Linked DNA regions of Homo sapiens. The protein of the gene in region 1 interacts with the protein of each later gene in a biochemical or structural test. Each region holds a gene or a part of one and is shown on either strand. Other genes may lie near its edges. The genes, in order: SMAP1 and ENG.

What was found.
Region 2: the proteins of SMAP1 (region 1) and ENG interact on a protein array, tested with the Homo sapiens proteins (one large-scale study listed by IntAct).

The regions. Positions count from the first base shown.
Region 1 is NC_000006.12:70,666,332-70,670,953, reverse strand, and holds the start of SMAP1 (stromal membrane-associated protein 1), read right to left. Parts: upstream 3,072-4,622; 5' UTR 2,931-3,071; coding exon 2,813-2,930; intron 2,425-2,812; exon of another isoform or gene 2,326-2,424; coding exon of another isoform or gene 2,238-2,325; intron 1-2,237. UniProt on the Homo sapiens protein: GTPase activating protein that acts on ARF6. Plays a role in clathrin-dependent endocytosis. May play a role in erythropoiesis.
Region 2 is NC_000009.12:127,844,659-127,848,158, reverse strand, and holds part of ENG (endoglin isoform 1 precursor), read left to right. Parts: intron 1-1,023; exon of another isoform or gene 1,024-1,216; intron 1,217-3,500. UniProt on the Homo sapiens protein: Vascular endothelium glycoprotein that plays an important role in the regulation of angiogenesis. Required for normal structure and integrity of adult vasculature. Regulates the migration of vascular endothelial cells.

The DNA.
Region 1 (4,622 bases):
AGGATCAAGAGCAGGAAACTGGCGCCTATGCCATCCTTTTCTCCTTCGTTGCTTCCTAAATACTGTCAATCCAGGAAACACAGCTGGTGATTCAGTAAGAAAATGTCAAAACCCAATTGACATACCTCTACCAACTATGATAAGGCAAGATAATACAGGCACCTCAAATCCTAAGCTTTAGTTTTGGTACATATTCTCAAAGATCAGTGGAAGAAGCTTCTTTGAAAGAAAGAAAATTGAGTTAACTAGGAAATAACTTTGAAATACAGTACATGAAAAGTTTGATGCAATTTACTAGACAGTGAAGAAAACATCAATACATACACAGAATGAAACTTCTTAGTAACTGAGCTGTAGAGTAAGACCTTTAACATATCTTTTAAAAGTACTATATTTATTATGTCATCCTAGCATATAGATCCAAAATCATGTAACAAGCCAAGAATTCTACTAAAAAAGCCTCCATAATGTACTTCAACCTTACCAAATACTCAAAAACTGTGAAAATATATTTACATCAATTGCTCTATCATGTCGAATTTTTCAATTATTACAACCATGAAATCAAGTCTAATTAAATCAATAAGTGGCCTTACCTGTGATTTTTTGCCTGAAAGATCAAGATAAAACAATGAAATTATTTACAAGATCATTTTAATATTCTTCTAGATTTAGTAGCAACAAGAAAAAAATAATCCTTGTAAATTATACTGTGGAGTTCATGCCCTTCAAGCTGCACCCTTGTACTCTTGATACCATTCTCTTCTCTCCCACTTCCTTCACTTCTCAAAACAAGTAAACCAACAAAAGGCCAGACAAAACCAAAATACAAAAGACATTCATTCAATATATATCTACTGATTTCCGTGGCAATACAAACACTGAGCAAAACGAATACTTCCTATTCTTCAGGTCCAAAGAAGTAAAACTTTTGATCCTAATTTAAGAAGTACATGATTCTCTTCTCCCCACCTCAAAAGAGTAAATAAAAAAAAAAAAAGTTAACATGGTTAATAATGGCTTTTAAAAATCTGTATTATTTTAGAAAGCATTAGTGAAAATCTGATTTTATAAAGTACTTTTTTGGAGACAGAAATTTGAACAAAAATTAAATTATTTTTAATAAAGTCTGTAGATGAAGGAAGGTTAATTCTGAAACTGTTACTATTCGACTTTTAATGAACAGATTTAATATTTACCAGCATCTCTACTTAACCATGTTATTACTCAAAATGACAAAATGTGTACTATTTAGCTTCAGCTTCTTTCTTCTTCTTGGCCTTTTAAAGGACCATTTTTCAGTGTTTTGCTAGTGCAGTCAATGAGCAAGCAACTGAGCCTAAACACAGTGCAGAACTCCCAAATAACCACACACAATCAAGTTACTAGGAAAACAAGTATTACAAGAACCAGGCACGGACTTTGTAAAAACTCATCACCTGAAAAGGTTACATAGGATAAATATAATCTTGACTCAATCAAGTTACTATATTGAAAAGTGCTTCATAAAAATAATCTAGTTACAGTATTCCCGCATGATTCTTCTAGTAATTCAGTACCTGTTACGACAGTGAAGTAACCTGCTGATGCTGTGTGGCTCAGTCTAGTCAAATATTATCAGCCTACTGAAATGTGACTCATTTATATAGTATTGAGATAGAACAGTAAAGCTTCAGGAAAAGTCTAAGTCAAATAACACAGAAATCTTAAAGGACATTCCCCAAAGAGACTGTCTCCTGCTTTAGAGAACTACCCTATTTCTCACCCAATAACGAAATAAACCAATTAAAAATATACACGATCTTTTCTTAACTACACAAGACATTTCTTTAAAAAAAAAAGAAATATTTCCCTTGAGATTACTTACAAGACATTAAACATAAATCAGATCTCCAAACACAAAACATAGCAGCTAAAAATAGTATATCTGTTTCAAAGGCTGAGGCAGAAGCCCTCCAACCGAAAAAACTAAAATTAGGTTTTTTCCATCTCTAGATCTTTAAAATGAACCTTCAGCATTTATGAGGTACACAAATCAGTGTCCACATATTCTCCCAAACTAGCTGGTCAGAGAAAACCTAATTACTAAAATCTTCAGAAATACAAACCCACCGTCCTCCAAGAGACTCATGTAATGAAATTCCTCTTCATTCTGGCTAATAACCAGACTAAAAAACAATACTACTACTAATAAAGACCTTTCTCCAATTAATTTATTCCGTAAAACTCAAACCCACCGAAAAAGACCACCATACTCTTTTTCAGGAAGCAGAGATAAAAGCCTTGTACAAAAGCTGTCAGGTGGGCAGGCAGGTAGGGCTCCATCTAGGAGACCAAGAATCCGAGCCCGGAGTGGGAGGACGTGGTCACACCGGAGGGTAGAGGAGGGGATCCAGACCTAAGCGCGGCCCCACCCACAGAGATAGCTATGAGCAGAGCTAGGAGGGCAACTCTCTAACCCTAAGCTCTGCCCAGACCCGTGCCCGGTTCCGCGCTCCCAGCCTCGCTCCTACCCCCAGCCCTGTGGAGGGTCCGAGCATCGCTACCCTGGCACCTGCTCAAACCCGTGTCTGGGAGGAGGGGAGGCTGGGGCCACTGACAGGGCCTGCGGGCCTGACCTCGCCGCCGCCTCTGGCGGACTTGAGGGTCGACAGGAGCCCCGCGCCCGCCCGCTCAGCCACCCGCCCTCCAGTCAGGGCAGGAGCCGGCCAGCGAAGCCGAGGCGTCCGCTCGGGCCCCGAGCGCCGCAGCGGCGGGAAGGTCACCGGTCGCAAGAGGCCCCGACCGTGGGCAGCGACGACGTCCAAGCTACCTTTGGCCTCGCAGTCGGCGCAGTACTTGTTGTCCTCCTCCCTCAGAAGCTTGGATAGGATGAGCTGGTGCTGCTCGTTCAGCTTCTGAGCCTTCTCCCGACAGGAGCGCGTCGCCATCTCGGCAGCGGGGCGGGGAGCCTGGGGCAGCTACGGCGGCGGCGGACGCTGGCTGGAGCCGGGCAGAGTGAACGCACCTGGCGCCGCCGGGACCGCGGGCGGACTCAGCCCAGGAAGCGGCAGCGGCAGCTGGAACGGGAGGAGGGGCGGCGGCGGCGGTGGCGGTGGTAGCGCCGACGTGTCCCGCCTCCTTGACCGGCCTGCCGGCACGCACCACCCTAGCCGGCGAGGGGAGGGGGAGGGGGACTGGGTCGCGCCGAGGCTTCCGGGTGGCGCGGAGGAAGGAACCCGGGCGCCGAGCGCGCTGCGCATGCGCCGAACCTACGGGGCCCGGGCTGCCGAGTCTTTTTGCAAAAAGGCCTTCTGCCCAAGGTGATTCCCGAAAGGTAGCTGGCACTGCCTCATACGAGCTTTCCCCCCTTTTGAGATGTGATGGTCCGCAAGGGCCTCTAGTAAAACCCAGTAATGGAAGACCTTTTACAAGAAGCCTACTTTGACTTGCCCATTTGCCTTTGCTCTTGCTGGCACAACATTGGAAATGCAGAAATAACTAGCGACTGGGTGGGTTCATTTACTCATTCGAGGTTTATTCGCCTGCAGTTTAGAAGCTGGAGACACGGATGGAAGAAAAGAGGAAAAACGGTCTCTTACATTTTAAGGGCGAGAAATAATCTAGTAGTGACATGTATTAGGGGATAACATTTCATTGAGTGATTACTCTGTTAAACGAACTGTTAGCTCATTTAACCCTTTCCCCAACCTTATGATATTGTTATCCTCATTACACAGGGGAGGAAAGTGAGGCATAGAGGAGTTAAGTAACCTGACCAGATTACAGAACTACTAGTGGAGGAGTTGAGATTTAAATCCAAAGCAGTCTGGCTCCAGAGTCTGAAAGACCTGGCAGTAAGCCCTTCCATAAGGGGGAAAGTGTGACCAGGAACCCAAGTACTAGGCGGTGATACTTTAACAAGAAGCTGTGTAAATAGTGATCCTTAATGCAAGAGAAAGAGAACTAAAGAAAACACTTTTCATTGGAACCCAGACCCTAATCCAGGCTCATGAAGTTTGAACTCCGGGTGACGCAGTTTCGATGATTTGGCATGTTGTATATTATGAGGAAGTTCTAATATGGGGCTTATGCAAGCCAAATAAACACAGTCCTTGCCTGCGATGAAGCAGATGCTAAGAAAGGCAATGAGCAAGAGTCGGTCTTACACTTCTTAGTAAGGCCAATTTCTAGCCCCTGTCCCTGCATAAAAGTGACCCTCATTGCTACCTAGCCCTGTTCTTGGCACAGGGGCTCAAAAATGTTTCTGGAATTAAATTGAATGGATATGGCAATGAAGATGCTCAGTAATTAAACAAATTAGAGCTTATACTACATAGCTCTGACAAATAACTACTAGGGAGATATTGGTGAGTTCCAATGAACAGAAAAAAACATTATGTGGGAGGTAGAACTTACGAGCCTTGTCCTGAAGATACGCTGGATTTAGATGGGGACTGGGGAGGGAGATATTAAGAAAGAGCAGCTTGCACAAAAGCATGAAGACCTGAAGTACCTTGGAAAACAGACTGGAACAAAAGGTACTACTTTTGAGATAAGGCTGCATAAGTAAACTATGATAGGGTTATGGAAGACTTGGGAAGCCAGACAAAGTAGTCTGGCCTTGATGCAAATTGACAGTA
Region 2 (3,500 bases), on another chromosome or scaffold:
CCAGTTCCTGAGCAACCCCCACTTAGCAGGAGCCGGCCTAGCGCTGTGCAGGTGTAATTTACTGGCCTGCTTGCCGACTCCATGGGAAGCTGTTATGATGACCCTCATCCCCATGTTACAGATGAGAACACTGAGGATGGAAAGGCAGCTGGCAGGTGGAAGAATCAGGACCTGAACCTTTGGCATCTGTCAAATCGCTGTGCTTTTCACCTCTACTGTAGGCTGCAGTGCAGGAACTTGACCCTGCAGGCATCGTAGAACCAGGGGGGAGCCCGGGGCCAAGGCATGCTGAGACCTCCTGGTGGCTGGGGGCAGTGGCTGGGCTGGATGCTGGGAAACCTGTGAGGCTGTAATTGGGCCTGAAAAGGGTAAAGAGTGGCCCGGGGGTACTGAACAAGACGGGGCAGGCATTGCAGCAAGAAGGACCCTTGTTGAAACGTATCTTCCTTGGGAGGCTGAGATGGGTGGATTGCTTGAGCCCAGGAGTTTGAGACCAGCCTGCGCAATACGGCGAAACCCCGTCTCTACAAAAAATACAAAAATTAGCTGAGTGTGGTGGTCCACTTGTAGTTACTCAGGAGGCTGAGGCATGAGAATCGCTTGAACCTGGGACGGGGAGGTTATAGTGAGCCGAGATCGAGACACTGTACTCTGGCCTGGGTGACAGAGTGAGACTCTATCTCAGAAAAGAAAAGGGGGGGTGGCAGCGGGAAGAAAAGTATCTGTCCTAGTATGATGAAATAATATTCACAGCTTCTGTGTCTGGGGCACCTACTTAGTACCAGGCACTCAACAGGGGTTACCCCATCAAACTGACACACTCAGCCTGTGAATGCCTGCTGCTTGCTGGAGCCAGACTGTCTGGGTTTAAATCCAGGCCGTGACACTTAGTAGCTGGGTCACCTCGGGCAGCTGGTCTTCAGTTTCTTTAACCGCCCTGGTCTTCAGTTTCCTGGAGTGTGCATGGGTGTAATAGCGCCGCCCACCTCACAAGGCTGCTGTGAGGATCAAATGAGTTCACTCGTGTAAAGCTGCCTAGGCTCCCAGTAAGCATGATGGGAGCATCTGCAGTGATTATTGGTGGTCTGCAAATGGGGAAACTGAGGCTCAGAGAGGTTAGGCTTCTGCTCAAGGTGACCAGCATTTTAAGAGGCAGAGCTGGGATTTGATCCAGGCCATCTGGCTCCAGAGCTGTTTTTCTTGATCATCCTCCAAGGTGCTGAAGGTAGCCCTCTGGAAATCTGGGAGGTGCTGTGTGCACATGGGTGGCGAGGGTGGAGAGGGGACAGTGGTGGGAGGTGGCTTCTGGGTCTCTCACTTGGGGTTCCAGTCACCCAGGCCCCCAGCGGCTCCTCCTCTGACCCAGTCCCGGGAGGCCCTGGCGTTTCCCTTGGTGCCAGGGGATTGTTTTCAACTTGGTCTGGGCCCGCCTCAGGCTCCGGGAGACAGGCCCAGGCGTCACACTCCCTCCTGTCTCCCCATTCTCGTCTGCGGGGTGGGGGCGGCCAGGATTCGAAAAGGCCCCAAAATAAATGGACCTCTTATCTGATCTCCCCGCCAGGCCTGTTATCTGATCATTACATAATGGCCAGGCTTGTGGCCTCTCCCGCTGGCTGACGGCATGGAGGAGGCGGCCCCAGGCGGCCCCAGCAATCCGGGAGGAACTGGGGTTCCTGGAAGTCTGGGGAGGGGGCAGGGAAAGTCCCAAAGGGAAGGAGGGAGGCGCTGCGATAATCTGCAGGCCAGACACTGGGTCATGTTGGGAGACGCGGGTCCGAGGCCCGGCCTGGTCAACCATGTGCTGTGAGACTTTGACCTGTCCCGTCCCTCCAGACCTCAGTCTCCCCATCTGAGTAGGAGGGGCTTAAGCTAGGTAACAGCCAAGGAACCTGCGCTCACCGATGAGGAAAGGAGAGGGTGGGGAGAACATGGGGGCTGGTGGGTCAGAGGGACTGGAGACAGGAGATGGCACCAGCCCTTGATTTTGTTGGGGTGAGGGAGATCCCAGTGACCTCTCCATCCCAGAGGACCGTCACCTGGAGGCCACCCCATCCCGCCACTTCACCCCACCCCTTAGAACAGTCAATTCTACAGTGACTGAAGTCAGTCAAATAATTGTAATTAAGAGAAAGCTGCCGGCCAGGCATGCTGGCTCACTCATGGTGGCTCACACCTGTAATCCTAGCACTTTGGGAGGCTGAGGCGGGAGGACTGCTTGAGCTCAGGAGTTTGAGACCAGCCTGAGCAACATAGTGAGACCCAGTCTCTACTGAAAATTTAAAAAATTAGCCAGGCGTGGTGGCGCACAACTGTAGTCCCAACTACTTGGGAGGCTGAGGCAGGAGGATCGCTTGAACCCAGCAGCTCAAGGCTGCAGTGAGCTGTTATCACACCACTGCACTCCAGCCCAGGAGACAGAGGGCAACCTTGTCTGAAAAATAAACAAATAGAAATTTAAGAAAGAATTGCCATGTGCCCAGTCTCATGGAGTCCTCCCAGCCACCTCTGTGGATCATGTGGGCTCTGTTGTCATTTTATAGACCAGGTATTGAAGCCCCAAGAGGTGAAATCATTCACCAGAGCCACATAGCTGGTAAGCATTGGGCCTGAGAGGCAAACCAGGTCAGCCTGGCTCCAGGGAGCTTGCTTTTAACCAAAATGCCACTATGTCCAGGCACTCCAGAGTCCCTGGGACATGTAGGATAGGGTCAGAGAGACGACATATAAGGCCTGGGCCCCCGTGGCAGCCAGAAGTCCTCATCCAGATCTTCTCCTTCCCAAGACAGAGCTGGGAATGGCGTTGCCATGGCAAGGGGTGACCATCTCACTTCCTTTGCTGACTTCTGGGGCCCAGAGCCCAACGTGCTGTGGGAAGGTGAGGAAGGAGGCCGGTGAGGCTCCAGACAGCCCAGGGTTCAGAAGAAGCCTCCCTGCCCCCTCCTCTGAGCCGGCCTTGGCTGGACATGAAGCCAGTCTCTCCGCGCCCATCTTTGATCTCCAAGAAAACAGGAAGTGAGCGCGACAAGATGGAGACACAAACTTCCAAACAGTCTCCCCTTCTGTCCTCCTTCCCTCCTCCGGAGCCCCCTTCCCCCGGCACATTCCTCAGGACGAGGTGTAGGAGCCTCATTTCCTTTTCCGACCCTGCTGGGTCAGGGTGAAATTCCATTCCTTTCCCTCAGGACCTGTGTTTCCGGGCTCTGCGGTCTGCTCTGGCAGCCTCCAAACCTGGGCCGCCTTCTCGGCTCGCCCTGTCCCTTGGGGCTAGGGAACTCTCAACCCCTTCAGACCATTCCTCCCACCACCTTGAGGCAAGAGAGGGGAAGCTTTGTCTCCTGAGCTCAGCTCCTGCCTTACCTGGAGGGAGACTTGGGTTCACACCTAGGCCCTGCCATGAAGTTAGGGTTGCCAGATACATCAAATGAAAATCAGCCGGGTGTGGTGGCTCATGCCTGTAATCCCAACACTTTGGGAGGCCGAGGTGGGAGGATCTCTTGAGT